Linked DNA regions of Homo sapiens. The protein of the gene in region 3 interacts with the protein of the main gene of each other region in a pairwise test. Each region holds a gene or a part of one and is shown on either strand. Other genes may lie near its edges. The genes, in order: UBTFL1, TNFAIP3, TAX1BP1 and RAB18.

The links.
Region 1: the proteins of TAX1BP1 (region 3) and UBTFL1 interact in binary tests that used the Homo sapiens proteins (3 or more experiments, as listed by UniProt).
Region 2: the proteins of TAX1BP1 (region 3) and TNFAIP3 interact in binary tests that used the Homo sapiens proteins (3 or more experiments, as listed by UniProt).
Region 4: the proteins of TAX1BP1 (region 3) and RAB18 interact in binary tests that used the Homo sapiens proteins (3 or more experiments, as listed by UniProt).

Annotation. Positions count from the first base shown.
Region 1 is NC_000011.10:90,081,145-90,088,038, reverse strand, and holds UBTFL1 (upstream-binding factor 1-like protein 1), read right to left. Parts: upstream 2,090-6,894; coding exon 908-2,089; downstream 1-907. UniProt on the Homo sapiens protein: Essential for proliferation of the inner cell mass and trophectodermal cells in peri-implantation development.
Region 2 is NC_000006.12:137,863,181-137,870,708, reverse strand, and holds the start of TNFAIP3 (tumor necrosis factor alpha-induced protein 3), read right to left. Parts: upstream 3,451-7,528; 5' UTR 3,167-3,450; exon of another isoform or gene 2,468-3,166; intron 1-2,467. UniProt on the Homo sapiens protein: Ubiquitin-editing enzyme that contains both ubiquitin ligase and deubiquitinase activities.
Region 3 is NC_000007.14:27,735,670-27,743,348, reverse strand, and holds the start of TAX1BP1 (tax1-binding protein 1), read right to left. Parts: upstream 3,188-7,679; 5' UTR 3,080-3,187; exon of another isoform or gene 2,674-3,079; intron 1-2,673.
Region 4 is NC_000010.11:27,534,842-27,542,487, reverse strand, and holds the end of RAB18 (ras-related protein Rab-18), read right to left. Parts: intron 4,613-7,646; coding exon 4,437-4,612; coding exon of another isoform or gene 4,397-4,436; 3' UTR 249-4,396; downstream 1-248. UniProt on the Homo sapiens protein: The small GTPases Rab are key regulators of intracellular membrane trafficking, from the formation of transport vesicles to their fusion with membranes.

The DNA.
Region 1 (6,894 bases), on a different chromosome or scaffold from region 3:
CAAAAAATTAAAACAATGTGACACTGGTGCATGAATTCTTAGATAGAGCAGATAGTGAAACAGGATAGTGTACTCATCTATATCTGTCTTTCTCTACATCTTTGTATCAATCCTGAATGCTAAAGGTGAGATTCACTTGCACCTGAAGCAGCAGGAAAAATTTGGAGCTTCAAGAATAAATGAAGATATAACTTAGAGAAGCTGCACCCAGTGTCACAAATGATTCTGTGGAGGAGCTCTTTCAGATTAAATCAGTAACTTTTTATTTTGTATTTTCATTTTTTTTTTGAAATAAGCAAGAAAAGTCTAATTGAGAACTGAGTCAGATATACATGTAGAAATATTACTCCCTACTCCCAGGCATGGGAATGGCCAACTCCTTACTTCAGGGAGGGGAGGAGAGAGATATCAAGAGTGGGACAATTCTCTTAAGACACCTACCCCACCTTTCATCAAATATCCCCGACCTTAGATTTAGTGCAGGAGTCCTGAAAAACATTTCCACAGGGAAGTTTGGGTCCCAGGCTTATGGGTATCCCCCTACCACCTTTGGCAGGACAAAAATGAGTAAAGCAAAGCTTCTTGCTTCAGAAATATTCAGTCTAATACAGTGTGTACCCCACAACGTAATCATCTCTTCATTTCAGAAGCCTTAATTGCATAAAGTTCCTCGGGAAAGGGATGATATTTGTTTGTTTGTTTTTTTAAGGATAAGGCCAGTATTGGCTCAAACTTATATTTATTCTTCCCAAAGAGTTCCTCCCAGGTTCATAATCTTGATGTAGGAGAGTGCTGCACCAAGTTGCTTCTTTCTTCCCAACCTGTCCTACTTTGCGGGAGGAAGGAAGAAAAGAAAACAAACAAACAAAAAAAAAAAAACAAGGAAGCTGCACTAGAGCCACTGCCCTCAGACATCAACTTCTATTTCTTCTCCACTGCTGCAGTCTGAAGAGTTACTGCTTTCTTCCTTTTCTCTATCTTTCTTCCTGTTCTCTTCTGGTTCCATGGAGACATGACAGTTTACCCAAATAGTCTGTGATGAATCTGTTCCTGCAGCCTGGAGCCCTTGCCCCTCCCCAAACCCTTCTTGCAGACCCTTTGCTGATGAGGACTGTGGATCTGCTTGTTTCAACCTGGGGTCCGGGCCTCCTGTCATGGCCATATTCTTACCCTTAGCATAGGTCGATTCTTTGTATGCAGCATAATTTTCAGGTGACAAAGTCTTGAGCCAGAGATCCAATTTCACCTTGTATTGCTTCTGCAGCTCCTCAGCCTGGCTCTTAAAATGATCCTTCTGGCTCTGCGGGATGCGCTGCCAGCGTCTGCCAATCTCTACCATGCGCTCCCTCACTGACAAATGTTGCATCTCTTTACTTGACCAGGAATCTTGGTGAAACTTGTGGTATCCATTCATGGGGGGTTTCTGAGGCTCTCCATGAAATTTTACCTTCTTGAAAAATCGATCCGTTTTTGGAAGAGACCTCACTTCTTCAATATTTTTCTGAAACTTCTTTTGCACTTTGTTTTGAGTCCTCTTGGAGACACTAGATTTCTTGGCCTTCTGGACTAAATCAGGGTGTTCTTCCCTGAATCGAGCAAGTTTTTCCTCAAATTCTTGCTTTTCCTTCCGGAAATCCTGAATATATTTCTGTTTCATCTGCTCTGGGAGTTCCCTGTATTTCTTTGACAGGATTTTGGTCAGTTCCTGGCTTCTCATCCCAGGGTACATTTGGGAGTACTGGGGCCAACTCTCCTTGAAGAAGCGATTGTAAGCAGTAAGGGGCCTCTTTGGAAAGTCTGGACCGTTCCTGTATTTTTGGCTTTTGTTCATCTTTTTAACACATTTCTTAGCTTCCAGGACTAATTCTTTCAAAGTGCCGAATTTTCTCAAGTTGCAAGAAATCTCTAACCATTTGAGTCTGCACATTTCACCAGAAAAGTTTTTAAAAGCTACTTTTCCCCAGTCCATGTGTGACTGAGTTGAGCTAAACGTGCTGTTGTCATCAGATGGGCGATTATTCTCCATGCATTCCAGTAACCTCAAGATGTCTTTGTTGGACCAATGGCCTTGGCTTCTAGGCAAAGCCATTTAGATGTCTTTGGCTTACTTATAAGATCCCGGTTATGTAGACACCAGAGCAAGAACACAGAGTTCTTTACTTTTAAGACTCAGTGGATGATTTATTTCTGGAAGTATTGCAGTATGTGTGATTCTGTATTTCTGAGGAGAAAGAAAGTTACTCTCCTTCATTTGGATTAATGAAGCAAATTACATCCTATTTGTCATATGTCCCTTGTATAATTCATTTGACCCTTAACTATAAATAAACATTGCCTGTTTCTGAATTAAATTTATGTTTGCCTTTCATATGCTACATGCACAATATTCAGTATCTCCACACCCCACCCCAGCCTGCTTTCTGCCAGATCTCACATGAACCTATCTTAAATTGAGTTGCATAACACAAACACCAGACCACTCATCACTTAAGAAGCTTAATATAACAGAAATGCCCTGAAGACAGAGTCAGAAGTTAAAGTGGAAGGAGAAATGCCTAAACAGGAAGGACTGTTCATTCTACAGTGCCCTGAGTATGGCCATTTTCTAAGCACAGCCCAAATAGCCATAGCTAAAGGTGCAGATGAGAAGTTAAAGATACAATCGGACAAGCCCAAGAGCTCCTCCAGACATGCATCCAACTGTTACCTTTTTATAAGGGAATGTGAACCTGTGATAAAAGACTGAATTATAGATTCTCCAGGACCAGTGCATGGGAATTAATGCTTTCTTGCTTTCTTTTATTTCTTTTTTTTTTTTTTAATTGAGACGGAGTTTCACTCTTGTCGCCCGGGTTAGAGTGCAGTGGGGCAATCTGGGCTCACTGCAACCTCTGTTTTTCAGCTTCAAGTGATTCTCCTGCCTCAGCCTCCCAAGCAGCTGAGATTACAGGCATGTGCCACCACGACTGGCTAATTTTTCTGTATTTTTTAGTAGAGATGGGGTTTCACCATGTTGGCCAGGCTGGTCTCGAATTCCCAACCTCAGGTGATCCGCCTGCCTCGGCTTCCCAGAGCGCTAGGATTACAGGCGTGAGCCACCACTCCTGGGCCGGGAATGAATGCTTTCTAAGAACCATACTGCTTCTCCTTTTAAATATCAAGGATTTAATGACAATTATAAAACATTTCAACTTTATTTGGTTAATTGTTCATCATATTTAAGCCTCAGTGAAAGTTTGGCTTCCTCCAGAAACTCCCTCCAGAATACCTGCCATTTTCCATTACAAAACTTGAAAATGTGGCAGATCTGATGACTACTCCTTTTTTTTTTTTTTTTTTTAGCAATTCTGTCTTGCCTGAAGTAATTCTTCTGGCACGTGATTTCTGGATTCACTCTTGAAATTCTCATAACTCTTTCACTAGTCTTTTTAGGATGATCTTCTATTCTAAGACTAAGCCTCACATAAATAAAATTGTGTACGAATACATACAACATTAAATAAAACCGAATCTTAAATGGAGGGTGAATAAGGAGTGTAACAGTGGGCCTTCAGGGGGAAAATATGCATTAGAAGGGAAAGAGAACAGAGTTAAGATACTGGTGGAAGTTGAAATTCTGAGAATGAGTTCTGAATATCTGAGAATAATATTTTTGAGAACTATTTTTAATTCTCAGTAGAGTATAGAAGGATGTAGCCTTTGAATGACATTAAAAATTCACTAGAAGTGTAAAGAATAATAGTCATAATATCACGTAAGTCACAAATGTCTCAAAACATAGATTAAAATGTTCTGAAATATTGGAATATAATTAAAGTCCATATTTGAGACAGAAGAGAAAATAAATAATAGCTTATATATTATATTAAATTTATTATGTGAAAAAGACTTTTGGGAAGTTGTTCCATAATAAATGAAGATATAAATAACTATAATTAAAATTTACAAAAAAAAAGCATTAAAATAAACTGTGAAAAACTTAAAAGAATGTAAAATTTAAAGTTATTAAATTTTTCATCTCAAAAATCATAAAAAAGTCATTTCATCAATGTCCTATGAAAATTAAAATAAAACAAACTTAGTAATGTAACAAATAAAAAGAGTAATTAAGAAAAAAGTAACTTTCACAAATCAAAGTTAAAAAAAAGAAAAAATAATGGATTCCATACTTTGTGTTTAAGATCAGAACATAGTCTCAAATGGTTCAGAAATAAAAAATGTCAGACTTCCAAATATATTGTGGTGATTATAAATAATAAAAATAAATAAATACAAGATGTATTCTAACTCAGAAAAAAGGGAAAAAACATAGAATTGACATTAGAAAAGAGGTGTGAAATATTCAGAATCTGAATTTAGGAAAAAAGAAGTACCATCTTCCCAATTGTAAAAGTTAGGGTGATGTGCGTAAAGCAGTGGAAATAAAAATACAGTTGTGTTTTTGTTGTTATGGGGCTGTTTTCTGAGCCAGACATTTTTTTCAAATTGCCAGTTAAAGAGTGGCCCCCCGAAATATATGTCTAAGTCCTAACCACTGAAACCTGTGAATATGGACTTTTGAAAATAGGATCTTTGCAGATGTAACTACCTTGGTAATCTCCCAACAAGATTAGTCTGGGTTTAGGGTGGGACCTAAGTCCAATGACTGGTATCCTTAGAGAAAAAATAAAAGGAAAATCTGAGACACATAGACAGCCATGTGGAGACAGAGGCAGAGACAGAGCTCACTAGAGCTATGCTGCCACAAGCCAATGAAAGCCAAGGATTCTCATCACCCACCAGAAGCTAGCAGAGAGGCAGGAGGTGGATTTCCCCTCAGAATTTCCAAAGGGAACCACTCTATCAACATGTTGATTTTAAATGTTAGGCATTCAGAAATGTGAGAGAGCAAATTATTGTTTTATCTGTGATAGTTTATTACAGCAGCCCCAGGAACCTAATATGCAAATGTTTTACATTTATTATTAATATCTTATTTTTCTCCTTAAAACTCTGTGAGCTCATTTTATGCTTGCTGTTCCATTACATATATGACGAAACTGTGACCAGGCATGGTGACTCATGCCTGTAATCCCAGCACTTTTGGAGCCTAAGATCCAAAAGGAGGGTCGTTTGAACTCAGGAGTTTGAGACAAGCCTGGGCAACAAAGTGAGAGACTCCTGTCAAAAAAAAAAACAAAAAACAAAAACAAGAAAGAAAGACAGAAAGAAAGAAAAAGAAAGAAAGAAAGAAAAAGAATGAAAGAGAAAGAAAGAAAGAAAGGAAGGAAGGAAGAAAGGAAGGAAGGAAGGAAGAAAGACAGACAGACAGACAGACAGAAAGAAAGAAAGAAAGAAAGAAAGAAAGAAAGAAAGAAGGAAAGAAACTGGGAAAACTAAGAATTTATATAGGGCCAGGCACAGTGGCTCATGCCTGTAATTTGAACATTTTTGGAGGCTGATGCAGGAAGATTGCTTGAGTTCAGGAGTTCCAGACCAGCCTGGGCAGCATGGAGAGACCCCATGTCTACAAAAACAAAAATTTAGCCAGGCCCACACTTGTAGTGCCTGTAGTCCCAACTACTCTGGAGGCTGAGGTGAGAGGATGGCTTGAGCACAGGAGGTCAAGACTTCAGTGAGCCTTGATTGTATCACTGCACTTCAGACTAGGCAACAGAGTGAGACTCTCTGTCTCAAAAAAATTGACCTTGTCAATGTTGTGTGATTTTCCCTTTTCTGTGTCATAATCCATCTAATTTTTATTTTTCATTTTTTATCACAATCACTTACGAAATACTTAGAAGTTTAAGACATTTTATTCCTGAACCATTTGAGAGTAAGTTTTGATCTTAAACAAAATGTATGAACTCCTGTGACTTTATGAAGCTGTATGAATTGTTAGTTTTTTAAATTTTTGTAACATAAAAGATAAATATTTGGCGAGGCACAGAGCCTCACGCCTGTAATCCCAGCACTTTGGAGGCTGAGGCAGGCAGATCACGAGGTCAAAAGATCAAGACCATCCTGGCTGACATGGTGAAACCCCATCTCTACTAAAAATACAAAAATTAGCTGGGCATGGTGGTGCACCCCTGTAGTCCCAGCTACTCGGGAGGCTGAGGCAGGAGAATCGCTTGAACCTGGGAGGCAGAGGTTGCAGTGAGCTGAGATCACGCCACTGCATTCCAGCCTGGTGACAGAGTGAGACTGCATCTCAAAAAAGGAAAATAAAAATAAAATAAAATAAAATAAACATTTATATAGTAGCTTCACAAAGTCATATGTATGATATTTATTATCAAACTATATTAAATATAATAAAAATATCAAAAAATAACAAGAGGCTTTAAAAAGAGGATTCAAACAACAAAATAGATTTGTAAAATAAAAATACCATGACAGAAATAAAAACTTCAGTGGAATATTAGGAAAATAAAAAAGTGCCTTTGAGCACTTAAAAACTTTGCAGACGACCAAGGCTGCATTCAACCTGAAGTTAAAGACAACATGGAACTTTTCATATTCTACAATAAAGGTTTCCAATTAAATTCTAGATATCATGCTATAGATAAAACTGTATAATATCTAGGACTTTCCCTCCAGAAGTTCACAATTTGTATAAACAAGGAACAAAAAATTAAAGGAAATACTCACCTGAATATTCTATAACTGGTCTGAACAGTGCTTGCAGGAAAGTTCATGCATTTGGCTCAGGAGTTCTGTGTCCTCTGGGCTTTCTGGACAACAGATGTTATTTTCTGAGGTTTCCACAGTCTAGCAAATTCCAAATGCCTCTAAAATAATTAGACTTGCTTTTTGGATGCCAGTGTATTATAGGATCCTTAAAGCCCCTCCCTGATTAGATGTCTGCAGTACAAAGTATCAATAAAAGGATTTACCTTTCAACCGTTGATT
Region 2 (7,528 bases), on a different chromosome or scaffold from region 3:
CCCTATGCTGGAAGGACAGTAAAATACTTTATGAAAAATCTTGCAATTTTATGCTGTCACTTAGGCTGCTGGTTGGTGTTTCCTCTTTAGCCCCAAAGAGAAGTATTTATAAAGTGTTTAATCATGAAGTTTATTCTGATGTTTATAAAGAGTTAAAACCGAATGTTTTCTAATCAATAAAAAAGTCCATTTCCAGCAAGATGCTTTGCAATTTTAAGAGCAGTCAGCATTCCTTCAGAACCTCCGCACCGGACTTCATATCAGAATAAGAAACAGACTAACAATAGGCTAGGCATGGTGGCTCATGCCTTTAATCCTGGCACTTTGGGAGGTCGAGGGAGGAGGATCACTTAAGCTCAGGAGTTTGAGACTAGCCTGGGCAACACGGTGAGACCTAGGTCTCTACGAAAACAAAAAATGAAAAACCGCAAAATAATAATAGAACAATAAATTCTATACTTCTAAGAACAGATATTGGAGCTCAATCATTTTAACTCAACTGCCAATGAAATTTTATCATCACCCTCCAGGTACCAACACAGAGGCAAGTCTGCCTGGCTTTTCACCCTGAAATCTTTAAGCATAATCAACTAGTAGAAGGAATGAAAATCTAGAAGTAGACAAGGAAAGAAGTTTCCACCAGGAGGCCACTCTGGCAAATGAAGGAGGAAAGGTGGCAAAGACCAGCATCTACAACCCATGCCAACAGCGCAGGATGATGCAAATTAACATGATGTAGGATCTCTCCAGTGTGGAACACTGTAAAAAGCCAGCTGTGATTTACTAGCCCTTAGTAGGGTGTCTGGCCACACTTCCTAATTTCCAAGAAGATGAAGAAGTTTTCAGAGCACAAAGACATTCCCTAGGAAATTTCACAGTGATTGTTAATTCCATTCCTGCAACATCTTATTTGCCAGGGCAACTTTCCAGTTAATAAAAATGTTAAACCTATGGAAGAGGGAGGAGAAGAAACCTAGATTTTAGGGTAGCTACTTCTGTGTGGGTCTAGACTCTCAACACCATTGATAAGGTGTTGAGATAATTCTTGTGGCCCACTCAAAGGAGAGAGGTTGGACTAGATGACCCATGGTTTCTCCTGAGGAGTTTTCTGGTGATAGTTTTAGATTGGGATTCTTAATCTGATTGCTGGGAAAGGCATAGTGGGAGTCATTCTCTGGATCAGATGGTGCTCTCTTTTGATGTCAGACGTCCTCTACAGGTGGAATTGGGCAAAATCATAGCAGGATAAAAATAACACATATACCTTTCCTTTGTGGCACAGCAAAAGTCTCTTTCACAATATCATCTATCCGTCCGTCCGTCCGTCCGTCCATCCATCCATCCATCCATCCATCCATCCATCCATCCATCTATCCATCCATCCACCCATCCACCCAACAAGCACTACCTGACCACCTACTGAAGGCCAATCACCATGCTTGATGATGGGACTAAAAGTCAAAGATGACCTTATTCCCTTCCCTGAAATTACACTACCACCTTAGTCTGCAGCTAAGGCAATGGAGTTACAGGTACTGCTCAGATCCCACAGCCATTCAGGGGCAAAGTTTTGCCTAGGAGCCAGGTCTTTCAATACCTGCCCCTTGCAATCCCACAACACCAAACCTGTGGCTACAGTGCCTGCCACAATCAGATGGAAAGAGATGGGCAGTAGGAAGATTTTAAACAAATGAGGTGTTATCTCTTTTTGCTTGCCTGACTCTTTTATTTTTCTCTTCTGAATCTAAAGATTTTTCACCAAAGATCTAAAATAGTGAGAGCTGTAAACCATAGGCAAGACATGCAAATGTCAATATCGGATACGCCAGTGTGATCTCATTGGTAGGGTTAGCCTTGCACAGCCTGTAAAACTGCCTCCTTAGAAATCAAAACCCACTGCCCAGATTTCCAGGTCTTGGACCACTCTACGCTTAAGATTAAAGAACAAATGTTTCAGATACGTTATAAGTGGCAAACAATGCAATATTACCCTTAACTTTTTTTTTTTTAACATTTGTTACCTCACTGTCTTATTTAAAGGTAGTTTCTCAACTTTTGTCACTAGGATTCCACAGAACTTCTCCGTTACTCAAACTCTTCTCCCCCTTGTTTTATTTTTCCACTCTGGGCAGACATTTTTGTCTGCATTGTGGAAATTGATGAATTATTTATCAACAAATACCTCATCCAAATTTGGGGATGTGCCTCTCCAAAAAATCAAAAATAGTACAAAGAATTGAAAAAAAAATCAAAGCAGCACCTTAAACAATGAGAATGAAGCATTCATTGGCTGCTCAATAATCTGGTACATTAAGGTTGCGGTCCAGAAGTCCCTTTAATTAACAATGGTTCTGCCAAAATGCTACCCTGAGACACTTGACCAGACTGGCTTTCCAAGGCAAGAAGATCTGAGGCGAGGAGAACCGAAAACAAAGCGGGCTCAAAAAGAGTTAAGCTCCTTCCTTACTTAATGCCACTGCTTTTCTGAGAGGCCAGGTGGCAGGATGTGGGACGACTCCAGCTGACAAAGACAGTCTAACCGTGGGGTAGGGGCTGGAGCAGGGGCCAGCGACCCACGTCTACATGCATACTTCTCTTACACTGCTGCTACTGGAAAAGCTGAACCCCGCGCCAGGACCCCAGCCCCCTGCAAGGACCCGTGAGCGTCTGGGAAGCTGTCTCTGGGACTGAAGCCCCCCACCTCCGCCGGGCTGGCGGCCACTGCGGTACCCTACGCCCCGTCGGGCTGGTCCTGCACAATTTGGGAAAAAGCCGCAGCGCTTCTGCAAGGTCTACGTGGCCATGAGCATGCAACGCTTGGCTCCAAAAAAGACACGAAAGGAGCAAAGCGCCAACGACCACCCGATCGGAGGGCCCGAGGGGCGCCTCTTCACCAGTCAGCTGCAGCTTAAGTTCCGTGCATTATCTGAAAGGAACAGCTGGCTGGAGGTATCCAGGGCTGTCACTCCAACCTCTGCAGCAGTGACCTCAACTCCCAGCACTTCAAAACCCAGACAGAAACGTCCAACAAACTCCCAGTCCAGGAGCGCTGCAAAACCAACGCCAGGTAGACGGTGCCAGCCCGGGGGTCGCTGCCCAACATGCACCCGCAGCCCTTGACTGCGGTGAGCCCGAGGCAGACGGCACGGGGAGGCGCGGCGGTTACCTCTCCGGGAGGCGCGGCGGTTACCTCTCCGGGAGGCGCGGCGGTTACCTCTCCGGGCCCCGCGATCCTTTCGCAAAGTCCCAAGTCCTGGTCAAGGCAGGAGCGCGCCGCAGGCGGGGGTCGGGGCAGGGACCGGGCGGAGGCGACGCTCCATGGACGCCTGGGGTCGGGCTCGCTCGCTGGCAGGGTCGGCTGGGGGTGTGATCTCTCTTGGCGGCCGCTCTCACCGCTCCGCCCCCGCGGGCTCCAAGCTCGCTTGGCCCGCCACGAAGACTGCAGACTGCGCAGTCTGCTTTGCCCCGTTTCAGTTGTATGCGGGTTGTAGGCCCGGGGATTTCCACGGGACTTTCCAAAGTCACGTGACTCTCTGGGTCGGGCTGCGAAGTGCGTCCAGCCGGCCGCCAGAGGGCGCAGGGGGCGAGGGGCGCGCGCGGCCTCCGCCCGACCGGGCCTGCGGGCCCCGCCCCGCCCCCTTTCCCTGCCCCGCCCCGCTGCCCCGCCCCGCCCGGTCCCTGCAGGCGCCCGGAGAAACTCCCTCGCCCCGCCCCGGGGTGTCCCCGCGTGAGTCACCTGGGCATTTCGGAAGCTGGGGTCACGTCACATCCATGTGGAAATCGCGGTGATGGGAACTGGAAATGAAATAGGTTCTTTTTCGCAGTTGTTTTTCTGCAGAAAATCATCAACTGTGGAGAAGAAGAAGGGAAATAAGAAAGAAAGAAAACCCTAAAAACCACCCTGGCGCCCGGGCCCGCAGGCCTCGGGCCGGCTCTGAAAAGTTTGGGCTGTGCACGTGATGAGCGCGTAGGCGGGAGCCCCAGACAGGACCCGGGCGGGCATTTCGAGAAAAAGCAGCGGTGACAGCCTTTGGTCCCCATCTCCATTGTTCCTGCCAGCTCTGGACCCCAGGCTGCATGAGACGTAGGTCCCAGGGGACACCCGACCCCGTGGCCCCAGTCTTAGGTAAACTTAGGAATCAGAACAACACTCACCCCTATGCCGCGCTTGCTCCATTTCCCCTTGTCTATTTCTGCTCACCAAGCATCCAGCTGACATTGCATTCAAAGCAGCATTTCAGCTTAGAAATCGCTTCTAGTCCATCACGGTGCTTGCCATGTGTCTCCAAGGCTTTATTAGGTGTGTTTTTAGTTGTCCTGATAATCAGTTCACCCCAGGGTGCTGATGGCTGATAATACTGGCGCTTCCCTCCCTACCCCCATGCGTTGCACAGGGAGGGTGAGTCATGTGGAGATGGATGCAGCCCCCTGGGCAGTGGGGGTGCAGGTGCTGTGCAGGGAGGAGTCTTAGGGCGTTTTTACTGTCTTACTGCCCTCTAAGCACGGGACCCTTTGGATCATTTACTAGATTGGCTAAACTAGAACCGGATGGAAATATTCTGTACTATGGTCCCCTTAATTACATTTAAGAATACTTGTCAGGCCATATATCACAGGTTTTTAATTAGAAAAGTATCCTCCTCTCGCCAGTAAGGACTTGCAGAGATGGGGGTGGGGGCTGGATGGAGGGTGGCACTTTTTTGGCAAAAAGAAGTTTGGAGCAGAGTGTCACTAGTGGCCTCTCTGAAGACTGGTCCTCGTCTTTTAAAACCGATGGCTGGAATTTCTTCCAGTTCCAAACCTCTTGTTATTTGTCCTCTCTTCTTGTTCACAAATGTGCTATCAACATTCAAACAATGGATAGTCAGCTATCCATTGTAAATGGACCTTGCTGGAGTCCAGGGCTAGCAGAAATGACAGGGTCTAAAATGACATTTATCAAGTACTTGCTATATGCTTATATATGCTTTTTATATGAAGGTTAAGAAGCTTGAGGCATTTGCCCAGTTTCCACAACCAAAAGGGGCAGAGTCGCCAGTGGCATTAAGCCTGTGTTACTCCAAAGCCCATAATGACCAGTCTTACTAGACCATTCCTCTCAGGAAAGATCCTGTGAGACAGGTACTCTTTTGGTGTCCTGTCTCCCAGCCTCTCAAAACAGCCAAACACGGACCTTAGACAGAATGCGGCTTCAGAGGTAGAAGGGTCTTGGTTTCACCTTCAGGAAACCTCCTGGGTTTCAGTTGAGCTGGCAGAAGAAGATCATGTATCTGAAAGACCCTGCATGGAATGTTAATCCTCACACCACTCTCCTGCTGGTGCTCCTTTGTAAACAGAGTTGGCCTGTTTCCTCTCATCTCTGGCTCCATGACTTCAATCCTCCTGCAGCTTCCACTGCCCCTATCTGGCTCATGTCTTGCTGTCTGGTGTCATGAACTGGGAGTGCAGTAAAGAGGAGTGACAAGCCTGAGGGGCCACGTTCATACCTGCCACTGCCAACTGTCCTGATGTAACTGCTTTGTCATCTTGCCTGCCAGGATTTGTGACAAGGTAATAGCAGTCAGATGCAGGAGTGGTCTATAGCCCTGGATTATGTTCGAACTCCACTTTCCATGATTCTACTGCTGGGCTTGTGAATTGCCACTCCCACCACCAGGCGGTCTTTACTGTCCTTTCCACCTTCTAAATCAGCGCTGTGTTGGGCTGTACCCTTGCCTTTTCCCCTTCTATTATGTAACACATGGACAAGACCAATGACAATTTTCTTGGTGAATCAGAAGGAAAGAAAAGAAGAGAAGGAGAGAGTATAGATGGAATGCCTTCTTATGAAAAAAAGGAGAAATACAATTTGGGGAGATTTGTTGAATAAGTTGAAACCAAAGAGATATAGAATGCTGAAAAGCCTTGAAGGAGATTTAATTTGAGCTATAGGCCTTGTCAAGATGGACAGAACTCTTTAAAGAAGAGAATATTTATTAACATTTAGTAGACACTTAGGAGAAAAAATATGTCTCCTTATTAGATGAAAAAGGAATTCTGATTATGTGAAATATTTTTGGAGAGTTCCTAAGTTACGTGCCATTTTGACACCAATGCTGGGGTTTATGGGTCATGAACTATGTAAAATGAGCACACATGACCTCTTGGAATTAAACGGTTCCCGTGAGACTGTGCTTGCAGCCTGTATCCCTGTACCATGCAGTAAAAAAGATGTGCTTGCCCAGATGGGGGGAGCAGGAAGAACCTGATGAAAGAGAGCACCACGTGTGACAAGTGAGAGGAGACCCTGCTGAGCTCAAACATATTTCATGAGCCTTTCTTAATCAAGAATCAGCAACAGTTGATTGGTTGTTGATTCTTTTTTTTTTTTTTGAGACGTCGTCTTGCTCTGTCGCCCAGGCTGGAGTGCAGTGGCGCGATCTCAGCTCACTGCAAGCTCCGCCTCCCGGGTTCACGCCATTCTCCTGCCTCAGCCTCCCGAGTAGCTGGGACTACAGGCGCCCGCCACTACGCCCGGCTAATTTTTTGTATTTTTAGTAGAGACGGGGTTTCGCCGTGTTAGCCAGGATGGTCTCGATTCTCCTGACCTCGTGATCCACCCGCCTTGGCCTCCCAAAGTGCTGGGATTACAGGCGTGAGCCACCGCGCCTGGCCCCTGGTTGTTGATTGTTAATTAGCATGCGTCTGCAGTCCCAGCTACTCGGGAGGCTGAGAGGGAAGGGTCCTTTGAGTCCGGGAGTTTGAGTCTATCCTGGGCAACATAGTAAGACCCATGTTTCTAAAAATTAAAAAAATAAAAAAGAAGAAATTATGTATTTTTAATAATCAGTGACACTCTCTTTCTGAGACTGTACAGAATTCCAGGGCATGGCAGTCATGGGCCAAACTAAAACTGGACCTTTTGTGTCTTTTGTACAATTGCCCCCTCCCCTTTTCCCTGCACTGTGCTCTATTGGAAAGGCAGATTCATAGAAAACATATTGGGAAGCAGCCTTAGGTAACTATGGCAGCTTAGTTATTGTAGGGTAGCTTTGAATCATGTTTCAGATTTTCAAATTCTGCCTCAAACATTACTAAAGGGTAACGTTTGCACATTCAAGGCCACTACAAGGGCTAGTTCTGAGAATAAAGAGAAGCTTTCTGTGGATTATAACCGTGAGAACTGGGATAATGATGTCATAAATTTCATCATCCTATGAATGCCAAATTCTACTGAATGTTGCTTCTTATCTAGGGACCTCAGATCCTTTACATGTGTTATCTGGACTGAATGGAGAAACCCAAGACCCACCATGGTGGAGGGACAACTGAAGTCCTTAGTGACCCAGTGAGTCATAGTACCAGGATCAAAGACCCTCCACTGGGAAGGAGGCAGTTGGTGTAATGACAAGTACAGTTCCTTCTGTTGCACTTTGCCTGAAAGCGTGCGATGCTGACATCTCAAACTTGTCAGAAAATCCACTATCCCTGTGAATTCTGTTTTATTTCCTGTCAACACTTGGCTGAAACACTTGGGAAAGTAATTTTA
Region 3 (7,679 bases):
AGTTTCCAATTATTCACACTGTGGCTCAAAAAAAGAAAGACTAACAACTCTCAACAGACCTCTGCTCCCAAAAAATGTAATCAGCAATTTTTCTAGGAGGCAACAGCAAAAGCCCCAGTCTATTAATTTGCACCCTTGCAGACATCCCTATTTCCAGAATCCTTTACACCTGAGTGCCAAGACATTCCGCCCAGGTATCACCCGCACCACTTTTATTTACTTTTTAGATTTTTATAAGTTGGTTTCTAAAATGCTATGATATTGGCCCACACATATTAGGGTAGAGGACATTTTTATCTTCTTCTAAAGGTTTATTTGGGACAAAATAAGCTTTAAAAAGACAGAAATGCATAAAGCCCAGATTTAACATATCCATTCCAAAAGAATACAACAAAGTCCCCAAAAGAAGTATACAAGGAGCATCATTAGGATCTTTCATGATTATTTTAACATTATTAAAAAGGTTGAAACTTTGAATTCCAAAATTTTACTTTTGTTATGGAAAAGGTATTTGCTGGTTAATTCTACAAACATGGCTGCAGTGAGAACTATAAACAGCGGTCTACAATTTAAGAACGTGATGGGCTGGGTGCGGTGGCTCACACCTGTAATCCCAGCACTTTGGAAGGCCGAGGCAGGCGGATCAAGAGGTCAGGAGTTCGACACTAGCCTGACCAACATGGAGAAACCTCGTCTCTACTAAAAATACAAAAATTTGCCGGGTATGTGTGGGGAAAAGCAAGAGAGATCAGACTGTTACTGTGTCTGTGTAGAAAGAAGTAGACATAGGAGACTCCATTTTGTTCTGTACTAAGAAAAATTATTCTGCCTTGAGATTCTGTTAATCTATGACCTTACCACCAACCCCGTGCTCTCTGAAACATGTGCTGTGTCAAACTCACGGTTAAACGGATTAAGGGTTGTGCAAGATGTGCTCTGTTAAACAGATGCTTGAAGGCAGCATGCTCCTTAAGAGTCATCACCACTCCCTAATCTCAAGTACCCAGGGACACAAAAACTGTGGAAGCCTGCAGGGACCTCTGCCTAGGAAAGCCAGGTATTGTCCAAGGTTTCTCCCCATGTGATAGTCTGAAATATGGCCTCGTGGGAAGGGAAAGACCTGACCATCCCCCAGCCCGACATCCGTAAAGGGTCTGTGCTGAGGAGGATTAGTATAAGAGGAAGGCATGCCTCTTGCAGTTGAGACAAGAGGAAGGCATCTGTCTCCTGCCCGTCCCTGGGCATGGAATGTCTCAGTATAAAACCCGATTGTACGTTCCATCTACTGAGATAGGGAAAAACCGCCTTAGGGCTGGAGGTGGGACATGTGGGCAGCAATACTGCTTTGTAAAGCATTGAGATGTTTATGTGTATGCATATCTAAAAGCACAGCACTTGATTCTTTACCTTGTCTATGATGCAAAGACCTTTGTTCACGTGTTTGTCTGCTGACCCTCTCCCCACTATTGTCTTGTGACCCTGACATAGCCCCCTCTCGGAGAAACACCCACAAATGATCAATAAATACTAAGGGAACTCAGAGGCTGGCGGGATCCTCCATATGCTGAACGCTGGTTCCCCGGATCCCCTTATTTCTTTCTCTGTACTTTGTGTCTTTTTCTTTTCCAAGTCTCTCATTCCACCTAACGAGAAACACCCACAGGTGTGGAGGGGCAACCCACCCCTTCAGTGTGGTGGTGCGCGCCTGTAATCCCAGGTACTCAGGAGGCTGAGGCAGGAGAATCGCTTGAACCTGGGAGGCGGAGGTTGCAATGAGCCGCGATCGCGCCACTGCACTCCAGCCTGGGAGACAGAGCAAGACTCCATCTCAAGGAAAAAAAAAAAAAAAGAACGTGATGACTAGAAAACAAAAACTACAATGTTCTTTGAAGTTGAACAATCAGTTTGAAAAATAAATAAAACCTTATTAGAAGTCGGCATCATCAAACAATCCTTCAAGTTTACCCTTGAAAGGAACAGAACGAAAGAGAAAGGCTGTCCTAAGCTCCTTCCCTAAACCCGAAAAGCACTTTGAGGACGATCGACCCACTTTTAGTTTCTATTCAAATGATCTCTTTAAATCCTTTAGGAATTGAGCACCAAACTTGTAACTATTAATTGTTCGTGCACAGCTCGTAGAAATTTTAACATTAGCAGAATGCAGACAGCTGAAAAATCAAGATTTATTTTCCCATCTAAAGCCTAACATAATAGCAATTCATAACCACTGTGTGAAACCGGAAATCTAACACTGTGTATGTCTAAAGTCAAATGCCAGTGTTTTCTAACAAAACTTTTACCAATAAGGTGTGTACACACACCCACACAGACGCACGCTAAGCTCAATTTTTTACTAATAAGGTGTACGCGCGCGCGCGCACGCTAAACTCTAGCCACAGATTCCCTAAGCCAGGAGTGCAAGTCGGTCGGGACTAGTCCACACCTTGCGAACGGGGCGGGGTGGGGAATGGATTCCAGGTGAAGCAGGCCATCAGCCAGAACCGCCAACTCCGCCCGCGGCCCTCAAAAGTAGGCGGCGCAGGGAGTCTCCGCCCCCTTCGCCACCGGCGACTCAAACCAAAACAGCTGGGTTTCTCTCCGCAAAGGCAAACCCCAGCGTCCTTCTCGGACGCGACCTACGTGTTTTCTCAGCTTACTGCGCCGGTAAAACCCACACTGCCCTCAAAACAGTCACCCCAGAGTTTAGCCTTGGACACCAGAAGCTTTTCCTTCGGGGGTCGCCAGCGTCACTCGTCCCCAGCCAAAGGGCCCCCGTCCCACACGCCTCCCCCAAATCGCGAAGGCCTGTCCCACGGGCCTCCCACCGCGTGGGGCGGCCACCCGTTGCCATTCCAAAACTCCACAGCTGATCCGAGTCGCCCACACCCCCGTCACAATCGCAGTCTGGAAAGGAAGGTTTGTCTTCGGGAAGGAAAGCCTCGTCACCACAGAGACCTCTCCCGAGACCGGCCAGGCCCCTACAGTACAGGGGCTGAAGGGTGTAGCACGAGCCCTAAAAGAGATGCAGCTGGAGGCCGCCCCGCACAAGGCGCTGGGGTGGACCGGGGAGGCGCCTTACCCAGTGGAAAGACTCCCGGATCAAGGGAGAAAGTTACGCAGGCTTCCGATCCTGATCCGCCATCAGCCGCCGAACCTCTTCCGCCACTACCGCCTACCCCCAAAGACCGGCTACACCTCCCCTCCCAGCCGACAGTAGGCCTTGCGTCACTTCCGCCCACGGGGCGGTCTCTTCCGCCTCCTGCCTGGTTCGCCGCTCCCCTCCGCGACGACACGCCCCCAGCCCACTCCGCCGCGGGACGCCTCATCCCGCGGGTAGGCTGGCTCTCTCCTTACTTCGTCCTTGCTATTTTCGTTCAACTTAATCGCAGCAAAACAATGCGTCTGGATTTACATTCTGATTTTATGTTATTATTTTGACATACGAAAGGGGGAAACACACAGGAGGTTTAAGTAACTCACCAGCGATGTGGAAAGGGCAGCTCAGAGGTCCATGGACAGTACCGTATCCCTGTCTGCGTCTCAGTCGGCCTAAACTAGCCCACTCATTTTATAGATAAGGAAATAGCCAGAGAAGCAAGGGAGTGACCACACGGCTAGGGCTGCAAACCCCTGAGCACCAAGACTGTCTCTGAACTCCTGGCCCAGTCGTGTGCTTTTTTGGCTATGAAGTTTTGTTCACTGAAAGCTCCTAGGAGCTTTTCAGTTCTAATGCCCTCTGATTCTATTTGCTCTCGCTCCAGCAGAGGCCTCTTTTCTAGCCGCATTTCTGTGAGTTACCTGCTTTTGTTATCCGTATCATTTTCCGTGTGTGAATTTTCTCCCGCGTTCTGTTATTTCTAAAATCACTTTTGCTTGTTGTATATGTTGCCTTCCTATATTGGACATTCAGTTTGAATCGTAACTCCACAGAAGCAAATGTGTCCCATTCGAATTCATCATAGTCTTCTGTTGCCGTAAAACCCTGACAAACCTTGCAATAGCACCAGAAAGGATATGTAAATTAGATCGCATTAAATGTTGAAGCACATTCTAAATACAGAACATTCAAAATTATCTTTCATATACTTTCATCTTTACTTCCAGTTATTTCAGAAGACATTAGCTTTGATAACATAGGTTCTCAATATTTACAGACTGATTTGTTTCCTGTGTATTGACATTTTTGAACTTGGTCTTGTGCTGGGTATTATACTTGATCATAGAATTTCAGAAGAACCTTAATAGGCCATTTAGTCCCAGTCTCCTTATTTTATGGATGAAGAAAACGGTGTGAATAATCAACATAAGTTATCACTTGCGTTACTGGTAGCAACCTTCTGGTAGTAGAAATAACTGTGTCCCTTAAGAAATGTAAACATAGCAGTGAATTTTATAAGCACAATTTGTCAGAGATGTCACTCTTTGTTTAAATCACATTCCTATTTATATGTAATACATTTTTAATTACCACTAATTTTCAGTTAATGAAATCAGAAAAACAGTATGCTTAATAAAAACCATAATTGAAAGACTTTTTTTTTTGCCCTGAGAGGGACGGAGTTTCGCTCTTGTTGCTCAGGCTGCAGTACAGTGGCGCGATCTCGGCTCACTGCAACCTCCGCCTCCCGGGTTCAAGCAATTCTCCTGCCTCAGCCTCCCAAGTAGCTGGGATTACAGGAGCCAGCCACCACGCCTGGCTAATTTTTGTATTTTTAGTAGAGAGGAGGTTTCGCCGTGTTGGTCAGGCTGGTCTCAAAGGACATTTTCACAGGTATTTTTACTTTGTTATTTTTAATTATTTCTTGAATTTTTAGACCTTATTTTCCCCAGGAAGGTATTTGTTCTGGAATTTTAGCTTGCTTCATTCATTTTAATAATGATCCTTTAATTTTTAGACCAAGTTTTTCCCACCAAGATAAATAGATACCCTCTTAGTATTTAATTGAATTTCTGGGTTTTGGGGGAGTAGGGTTTGGGTTTTTTGTTTGTTTGTTTTTTGAGACAGAGTCTCGCTCTGTCACCTAGGGTGTAGTGCAGTGGCATGATCTCGGGTCACTGCAACCTCCACCTCCCAGATTCAAGCAATTCTCCTGCCTCAGCCTCCCCAGTGGCTAGGATTACAGGCGCACACCACCACACTGGGCTAATTTTTATATCTTTAGTAGAGACGGGGTTTCTCCATGTTGGCCAGGCTGGTCTCCAACTCCTGACCTCAGGTGATCTGCCTGCCTCAGCCTCCCAAAGTGCTGGGATTACAAGCATGAGAGACCGCACCCGGCTTTAATTGAATTTCTTAAAGTTAGCCTCTTATTTGTATGGCAGTGGACTATGGCTAGAAGAGATATGGATTCACTTCCTTTAAGTGAAATCTTTCTGCCAGATGGATTTCAGAATTCAGAATTTTTCAGACTTTAGAGAGGTGTGCTTTATGTGACATTCCTCACTATCTGGGGCAGCACCCACAGTCAACTTTTTTTTCCGGAACAATTATGAATATCACACTAAGATAAATGAAATGTATAGTCTCACTCAAGTCAAGTTTTTCAGGTCAGGTTCTGCCACTTTGCCCTTGGGTTCAGGTCAAGTTTTAATGACAAATGAGTCAGGTCAAACAGGTTTTGCCACCAAATGTTGAGAAAACATTTGATTTTCAGAGCTTTTTCTTTTTTTTTTTTTTTTTGAGACGGGGTCTCTGCCCTCTTCCCTGTCACCCAGGCTGGAGAGCAGTGGCAAGATTTCGGCTCACTGCAACCTCTGCCTCCCAGGTTCGAGTGATTCTCCTTCTGGGATTACAGGCATGAGCCACCGCACCTGGCCAATTTTCAGAGCTTTTTAGATTTCGAAGTGGTGAATATTGAGAGAATTATTGGAAAGTAAATCAGTGAGTAACCCATGATTTTTCTGGAGCAACTACAGTGTCAAGTAGTTTCTAGGCAGTTGTCCTGTGTTTGATTGGGAAAATATGCTGACTATATTTAAAAGGCACTGTTCTTTCATTAGAGGAACTTATGATAGCAAAGGGAAGAAAAGAAATGAGCCCATGAAAATGTAGGTAACTAAAGTGTAAATGAATAGGAAGACAGATATTCAGAGATGGGAGAAAGTACAGGCTTATGTTAGCAGTACACTTTTCATGGGGGAGGCAGGCCTAGACTGTCAAAGTGAGGTATGATTTCGATGAGGAGATGGAGGAGGAGGACTTTCCAGTCAGGATTTAAGAGCTTGGGCAAGGGAATCAGGCAAGAAGAAAATTGTTAACCAAAAATAATAATTTCCTCCAAAGTTCATTCATTCACCATTGTGTCATGTCGCTTCTTAATAAGAGCATTTTGTTCATTTACTATGTGCTCTGGGAAAAACAAGGAATCAAGCATGGTTTCTTCCCTGAAACTGCTTAAAATCAGGTCAAGATGTTACCGGATGGTATAGATAACTGTCAAATTTGAAGGAAATGGACTATGAGAAATAAAGTAGAAAGATATACAGAATAATTAATTTTGAAATTAGCTAGACTTTGTAAAAGAGATTGGTCTCTAAACTTCAAAAGACTGATAAGATTTGAAAAGATGAAAAAAAGGCTTACATAGTGAGAATAATATAATTTAAAAGGCACAGATGGGACAACTAGATAGCAAAACATGGATTGAAAATTTTTGAAAAAGTTCAAATAGACATGTTTTATTAGAAACATTACAGGTTTTAAAAGCCAGGCAAATGAGTTGTTCTCCTTTCTTAGAACAATGGTTTACATTAGAATTTGTATTAAAGATTCCTTTTGTTATAAATGATTCTTAATTAAAAAGAAAAAAACACCTTTGTAAACCTTTGTTTTAAAAAGAGAGCTTTTTTTTTTTTTTAGGCAGAGTCTCACTCTTTCACCCAAGCTGGAGTGCAGTGGCGCAATCTTGGCTCACTGCAACCTCTGCCTCCCGGGTTCAAGTGATTCTCCTGCCTCAGCCTCCCAAGTAGCTGGGACTACAGGTGCATGCCACCACACCCAGATAATTTTTTTGTATTTTTAGTTGAGACGAGGTTTCACTATGTTGGCCAGGATGGTCTCAATCTAAAAAGAGAGCCTTTAAAAATGAGATTTGAATAATGGTAGGCTTTGGATAGGCAGAGAAAGAGAGGATTCCAAACACTCTAAAATAGGCTGATTTTCTCTTTCCCTGTCTGTTAGATTTTATTGATGTATTCATTGCTCCTTGTTTCCCAATCATTACCTACCTAGGTGCTTGTAACACACCTTTGCTCCTTTGAGATATACACTGTTGTGTTATGCTCCGTCTTCCCTCCCTGTGGCTGTCGTCTTCTGATCTCCAAGTCACTGTTCCTCATTCAGTGAAGAGTGTCACCTAGTGCACAGTCTCCTCCATTCTAAGCCATTCATTGTCTACTTGGATGAGATTAAAATGAAAAGGCCAACATCCCAGCATTTTAATTTCCTGAATCCCTCATCTCAAATACTCCACTCCAGATACCTATTTCTGTGGTCACACCTTGGCCCTTGCCATCATCTTGAAAAGCAAGCCTCCTACTCTTTGACCACAATCTCCTATTCTTCTAACTTGTTCATTCAAATATGCCCAGCAGAACTATTTTTCAAACTCATCAGCATCTCAATCCATTTCTTTTTTTAATACTTCCCTCAGTATCCAACTTAGAGTCCATAGCTATAA
Region 4 (7,646 bases), on a different chromosome or scaffold from region 3:
AGTTAACTCATTTACAGTTTTCTATGTATATATCCATAAAGAAATACGTAAAAGTATTCTCACTAAAATGTTAATAGTTATTTAAGAGTAGTGGCTTTTCAAGTGGTTTACTTTTTTTCTTCCTTATGCAAACAATCTATTACTGATGTAACTAACTTGACGTACGAGCACCTCTGTAAATAAGAAAAACACACACATTCTCACACTACTTATATTTGGTTGCAAGAAAAAAGAAAATCCAAGTCAAATTGCCTTCAACAAAAAAGGAATTTATTGGCTCACATAAGTGAAAGCTGAGAAATAGATCTCAATTCAGGTCCAATTTGATCCAGAAGTTCCCAAGGGCTCCAATAGACTCCCTCTCACCCTGGTACTGCCTCAGGCTGGTTCCTTTATATTAGAAAAACGAGCTGCAGCAAGTTCAGAATGTGACTCCTCCCAGCACACTATCTCCAACAAGATGTCTTCAATTGCTCCTGAAAAAGCCTAGGCAAACATCTTTATCTCAGTAGTCTGGTCTGGGTCAGGTGCCTACCCCTGAACCATTGCTACTGGGGAAGTGGGGCACTGCTAAAAGGTAACTGGGTTAATCTAGAAAGCCGAGGGTGTGACAATGCCACCCAAACCACATGCCAATTGTTTGCAGGGGTGGGGGTGGGGGTGGTATGGTGGGAGAAGGAAGTAGGTGCTGGATCGGGCAGCCACAGCACACACAAACAAGAAATTAAAGTCAGTCACAAACATATCCAATAAAATATTAAAAGTACTCAAGCTCACTAGTAATCAAAGAAACACAAAAAAAACTACGTAATTTGTTGCTTCTCCGGTTAAAAAAGAGGAAAAAAAAAAAAAGCAAGAAATAACCTGCATGAGAAACGGTAAAGGGGACAAGACTGAGAACAGGCATGAACACACGACTATTCAAAATATGTGTGTAGGTGTGTGTGTGCTTACATTCATTGAACAGCTTTAACTAAGGGGCACTTAAGCAAACTTTATACCACAATCAGAAACATGACTGATTCCCAAGTATGAAACAATAAGCTAGCAACAAAACAGTAAAATGTAAAGCCCCATCACAGTAGTCCTCCAGCATGATAGATGTTCCCAACTGAGGAGAGAAAAATTAAAAAAAAAAAAAAAGACCTGGGTGATTCTATATTCCTTAGCCCCTAGTCTTGACTTAGCTAGCCTGTCTATGTCTATTTATTCTCGTCTTTCAACAGTTTAGGCAAAACCCAGGGTGAAGTCTATATAGTTGAGTATACACGGCAGGGTCGGAGTCAGAACAATGTCTTCTGAAAGCTGAATAACGTTTTTACCCCTATACTTAACTAGGGAAATACAGGAAAGACAAAATAACTTCCTAAGTATTACTAGTGAAATGTACCCCCAAGAAAGAGAAGCATAATGCTTGAATATGGAGAGGATCTCTGATCTATAATACCTGAAGAATTGTTGAGTTCATTTGAAAAAAATACACAGAAAAAATATGTATTAAGTTGTACTTAAAGACACTATGGTTATTAGGTAAGTCTGTGCCAACTCACAGGCAGAACAAGTACTGGTGTAAGAAGGATTCTTTTATGAGCTATGGTGCTAGCCCCACCCTTAGTAGAGAATCATGTCTCTTGACCATGCAAGCTACGATGAATCAAAATCAAGTCTATTTCCACAACACTCAGCTAGAATGTCAACACCAAGTATGAGTTTATGGATGGCAATCAAATACATGAAATGAAAACATCACCCCAGATTTCAGTTTTGAGCAAATTACTGTTTCCATAATTTCTATTCTCACATAAAAAGTGAAGGTACCATAAGTCCCCTAACTTTGTACCTTTTCTAAGTCAGGATTTTCAGTCCACTCTGAGCAGGTGAAAGAAATAAGACCACCTACTCCACTACCTTAACTTTTATGTCACATGACTTATGAGGTAGGTTTACATCATGGGATTTACTCTATAACCCAAAAGTGTGAAATACTTCTATTACATATAACAAAAGAGTGATAAAGAAATAGTGGAACTGCCTTAACTTGGTTGTGTTACAAAAAGCTGGTAACTAACTACCCATTGTAAAATGAGCGATGGTGAAGAGTATGGGCTCAGAAGTAAAAATGCCATGACTGGAATCCAGCTCAGTGACTGAGTAGCTATGTGATCTTTGGGGGTTACCTAACATACCTACATTGTGTTGTCCTCACCTTTAAAATGGGCATAATAGGAGTACTAATCTCTTAAGGTTGCTGTGAGGTTTAATGAGATAATTCAGCACTTAGAAAGGCATCTGGCACCAAGGAAGCTTTCAATAAATATTAACTATTACTCAGAAATTGAATAGTTTTTTATTTGTTTGGGTCAATCTCAGTACTACTAGAACTCAAAATACTATATTCTAATTGTTCTAATTTGTACCATCTGCAAAAGACCCTTTAAGACTGCTTCAATGATTCTGAAAAGAATTAACAAAACCCTGTTACTAGGTGCCTGACCTTAGATATTACAACTGTTTCATTTACAAAACCTCCACTACAAAACACTAAGCTTGCAACAAAACAACAAAATGAAAGCCACATAATTTGAGTAACACAATAGTACATATTCTTCAGCTGATGAGAGTAATAGGGAAATGTATATACTTCCTACACAAATGCATCTAGGGAAAGCAGGCTATATTTATTCAAGAACTAGAAAAAGGTTACAATATAAATCTATCAAACAAAATTCATTTTTGTTATATTCAAGTAACTCATATATATTCAAATTTAGACCAAATCAAGACAACAATCCAATACACAGATTATTATATAGCTCAAGGAGCAAAAAACAACAGTCTTGTCAATACAGACTCTACATAAATACACAAATCTCAAGTTTTAATATAACATGAACAAATCACAAGTACATGTGTTAGTGTTCTTTCTCCAAATTTCTAGTAGTAAATCTTGTATATTTAGTAAAAGCATATAGAATGTATAAAACCTTCAACCACATGTAATGTAGACTAGGAAGTGTAAATCAAGTAGAATGTGAGGTTTTTATATGTAAAGATGTACATTTCAGAAAGAACCCAACATGAAGTAAATTAACAAACATATTGCAAAGGTGGTCACTCACAAAAATGCTTATCATTTGCAATTGTATACAGAGAACAAACTGCCCAGAAATTAATACTGGAATCTTACTGAGGGGTATTATAGTAACCAACCTTAAAGGACAAATAACTTATTTGGGGGGTTAAAATAGCAGAGATCAGTGTAAATTAAATAACACATGAATGAAAAAAATCTACAATATACAATAGCAAGAGGTGAGAAAACTGAATACTGTGAAAAAGATTTATTAGTCTGTACAAGTTGGTTTTGATGAACTACTGGTTACTTGTTAAGTAAATTGTCAAGATTTTCATTGTGACAGTATTTTCCCTCACACATCAGAATCTGGAAGCAATATGCCTTTTTCAAATTATCACTTAGTGTTTTTTTTCCCCACCCCTCAAAACACAGAAATAGGTTTTTGAATATCAACTAGCCATTATGGAAGCCGTAAGATACAGATATTCATCAACATTACACAAGCTACAGTTAAGGTACCTGGACAAACACTACCAACATTTATGAAAAAAGATGTTGGTTTTAAAAGTGTATGAGGAGTTACAATAAACACACTATTCATGTCCTCCTGAAACCAAAATGGGGGAAAACCTTATTGTCATTCTGCCAAACACCACATAACTAAAAATGCTGCACAGTCATGAATCCAATGTACATATCACAGGATTAAAACTCCAGTTAAGCAACTGAGCTAATCATTGAAGTAAATTAAAAATACCAAGCTTCTTTAACCTATCAATGCTGTTTTAGAAGCATCATCCGAACAAATAGAGATTTAGTTATAAATTGGCCTGGGCTACATTCTGTGATGAGAATTTTGCTTAGTACTAAAAAAGAATCTCAAACATCCCAGAAAAGCTGTGGAATCATGCTCTTTATTATTCCTGAAAGAAAATTTGCCACGTTTGATGATACCTCTATTCTTCCCCGTGGTGCTAGGAGTTCTAAATACCAAGTAATTCAGAAAATGATAGGAGTATTTAAGCAAAAAGAATAGCAAAAGCAGACTTTGTATCAACATATCCTAGATAGATGGATTTTTTTAAAAATTACATGATAAATGTAAATCATAAAATTGAATGTACTTATAAAGGTACACCTATTTTGTGCTACATAAAAAAACTGTAGACTGCAAACTGTGCATGCTTACCATAACATTTTACCCGGGGTCGATGAGTGGGATTTCTTGCAAATATTTACTGCTATGATATAAAACAATTATGTGCAAACTGCAAGGTCCCTAAAATAGCAGTTAAAGAGTTTATATACAGAAAGATGTCACTATCTGATCAAATATGCAAGAGATGGAATTTCCCAGAGTTTATAACACAGAGCAATAACCACCACAGGCTCCTCCTCCTTGGCCTTCTTCCCTGTGTGACAGTTTGACTCCTTTATTCTGGTTCTCACTTTCCCACAGTCCAGGGGTCTGAATGATCTTTTCAACAAGTTCTTCAAAGGCACATTGTACACCATCACAGGTTTTTGCACTTGCCTCTGAAATTCAAGGAAAAAGGTCATTCATAGTATATTCCTTTCTGGCCATATTCTCATGTTTTTCTGGGAAACTATCAGGGCATAAATATCAGCCTACAATATATTAAGATCCAAATCAGCAATTTTTCCCCAAAGGTCAATAACTAGTGAATTTCCAAATCTCAAAATTGAGCTAATTAAATTCTATCCATAAGAATACTAGTATATAATTTTATACCAAAAAAACACTGGTTTATAATCTTAAAACTGTGATAGAATTGTAACTTGTAAAGCCCTACTTAAATAGCGAGCGAAAGTTTTTTCCTTAAGCTTTCAGTTAACTCTTACAACTTGCTCCCAAGGCAGATATTATTCCTATTTTAAAATAAAGAAATTCATACAAGTTAAACAATTAATCTGATTATTCTGTGCCTTCAACCAAGCAGCTCCAGGCAGCTGGACAAAATGACAAACCACCATGAAAACTGGTCCCACAGCAAATGTTTGCTCATGAAACTCAACTGGACACTCAGCACTGCTTCCAACCCTGCGTTTCCTTAGTGATGATCTTTCTCACCGTCTGAGATGAGTACTTTATTCCTTCCTCTCAAAACTCTATCGCAGCTAATAATCTAGCTGCATTATGCTGAGAAAATCAGAAGCAATCTGGCAAGAACTGCCTGATCATCCCACTAATAAATTTACCAAGCTACCTGCATATGTATCCTCATGCTCTGCTTTCCCTCCTGTGAGAATGGATAAACTGTCCCTGCTGCTATCCAAGCCATCGCCTTCTTTTGTTCCTGGAGTCCCATCCCTTCTCATTCACCGAAGGACCAAACGCTCTCTCTACTGGATCATACCAATCAGCCTAAAAGTCTGCCGAATTATTTTCCATCCTATTAAAAAACAAACTTGCTCTCTAGGCCACATGCCCTTCTTGTAGCCACCCATTTCTCCACTCTCTTTGAAACCTCTTCTAAAGAGTTATCCACATAAGCTGTTTCTACCTTCTTATCTCACGTTCTTTCTTCAAACTACTCTAATTAGGCTTTCATTCCCACCACTCCACTGAAATCATTCTTTTCCAAGACCACCAACACCCTTTATCTTGTCAAATCCAATATCCTAATTTTATTTGACATCTTTGGTATCTGATACTGCTAATCACTTCCTCTTCTTTTAAACAAGTTGTTCCCTTGACTTCCAGGACACTGAACATGCCTGAAAATCCTCTGAGCCCACTGACATGTCATGTGCAGCCTTGTTTGCTGGCACTTCCTCTTTCTGCTGACCTCTAATTGCTGGAATCCCCCAGGGTTCAATCTTCTGCCATTTTCTTTGTTTTGTTTTGTTTTTGAGACAGGGTCTCACTCTGTCACCTAGGCTGGAGTGCAGTGGGAGCTCCACTGCAGCCCTGGCCTCCCAGGCTCAAGTGATCCTCCCACCTCAGCCTCCAGAACAGCTGGAATCACAGGCACATGCCACTATACACAGCTGATTTTATTTGGAGATGAGGTCTCACTATGTTGCCCAGGCTTCTTCAGCCCTTTTCTATCCACGTTCTTTCCTGAAGTCACCACTCTAATCACATGACCTTGAATGCCACCTAAATGCCAATGACCACCATGTCCACCGGTTATCGGAAAAATGTCTCATTCTTATGTCAAAGTGAAATTCTTGATTCCTCACTTCCCTACCCTAAACCTGCTCTTATCTCAATCTTTCACATCCTAATTATTGGCAGCACAATCTACCTCACTGCTCATGCCTAAAACATGGAGTTATCTCTGATTGCTCTCTTTTTTTTTTTTTGAGACAGAGTCTCGCTCTGTCGCCCAGGCTGGAGTGCAGTGGCGTGATCTCGCTCACTGCAAGCTCCGCCTCCCAGGTTCAAGCAATTCTCCTGCCTCAGCCTCCCAAGTAGCTGGGACTACAGGCACCCGCCACCACGCCCGGTGAATTTTTTGTATTTTTAGTAGAGACGGGGTTTCACCGTGTTAGCCATGGTCTCGATCTCCTGACCTCGTAATCCGCCTGCCTCGGCCTCCCAAAGTGCTGAGATTACAGGCGTGAGCCACTGCACCCGCCTGATTGCTCTTTTTAATTATCCTCCATACCCAATCCACCCACAAATCCTGTCAGCTATACCTTCACTGTATCTCCTAGAACTGCCAATTTTCTACCACCCTCTACGGCTACACAGTCAAACCGCTTCTTCCTTCATCTGGGCCACTGCAAGAGAAGAACTAGTCTCTTGCTTCTGTTTCCCCTAGTCCATTTTCTACACAACAGGATCTTTTTAGAGTATCAGGTCACACCGCTGCTTCCCTACTTTCCACCACAATTGGAATACAATCCATCTCTTTACCATTTGAATGGCATCTCTCACCATCTGCCTTCTCCTTAACACACTCTATGCTCCAGTACACACGCTTTCTTCCTGTTCCTTTAACACAGTAGCCTGATTCCCACCTCAGGAAATATTTGCTCCTCTCTCAGCCTGAGATGATCTCCCTCTAGACTAGGGGTGTCCAGTGTTTTGGTTTCCCTGGGCCACATTAGAAGAAGAAGAATAGTCTTGGGCCACAAATAACATACAATAACACTAATGATAGCTGGAACTTAAAAAAAAGCACAAAATCTCATAATGTTTTAAGGAAGTTTACAAATTTGTGTTGGGCCACATTCAAAGCCATCCTGGGCCACATGCAGCCCATGAGTTGGACAAGCTTGCTCTAGATCCTCACCTGAGGGATTTCTGCTCAAATGGGACAGCCTCTAAGAACTTTCCCTAAGCAGTCCCCACTCCAGTCATTCTCTCTCCCCTTATAATGTTTTATTTCCTTCATAGCACTACTTACTTATTTAAGTCTGTCTCCCTTACTAGAATGTAAGCTCCATGTGGGCAGAAAGTTTGTCAGTTTTGTCCACTGTTACATCTTGAGTGTTCAATAAATATTGGGTAAACTAATGTATGGAAATGAGGGACATACAGCAAGTAAAAGTACTCGATTCCTTTCTGAAAATCTCAATACTTTCCACTAATTCCATT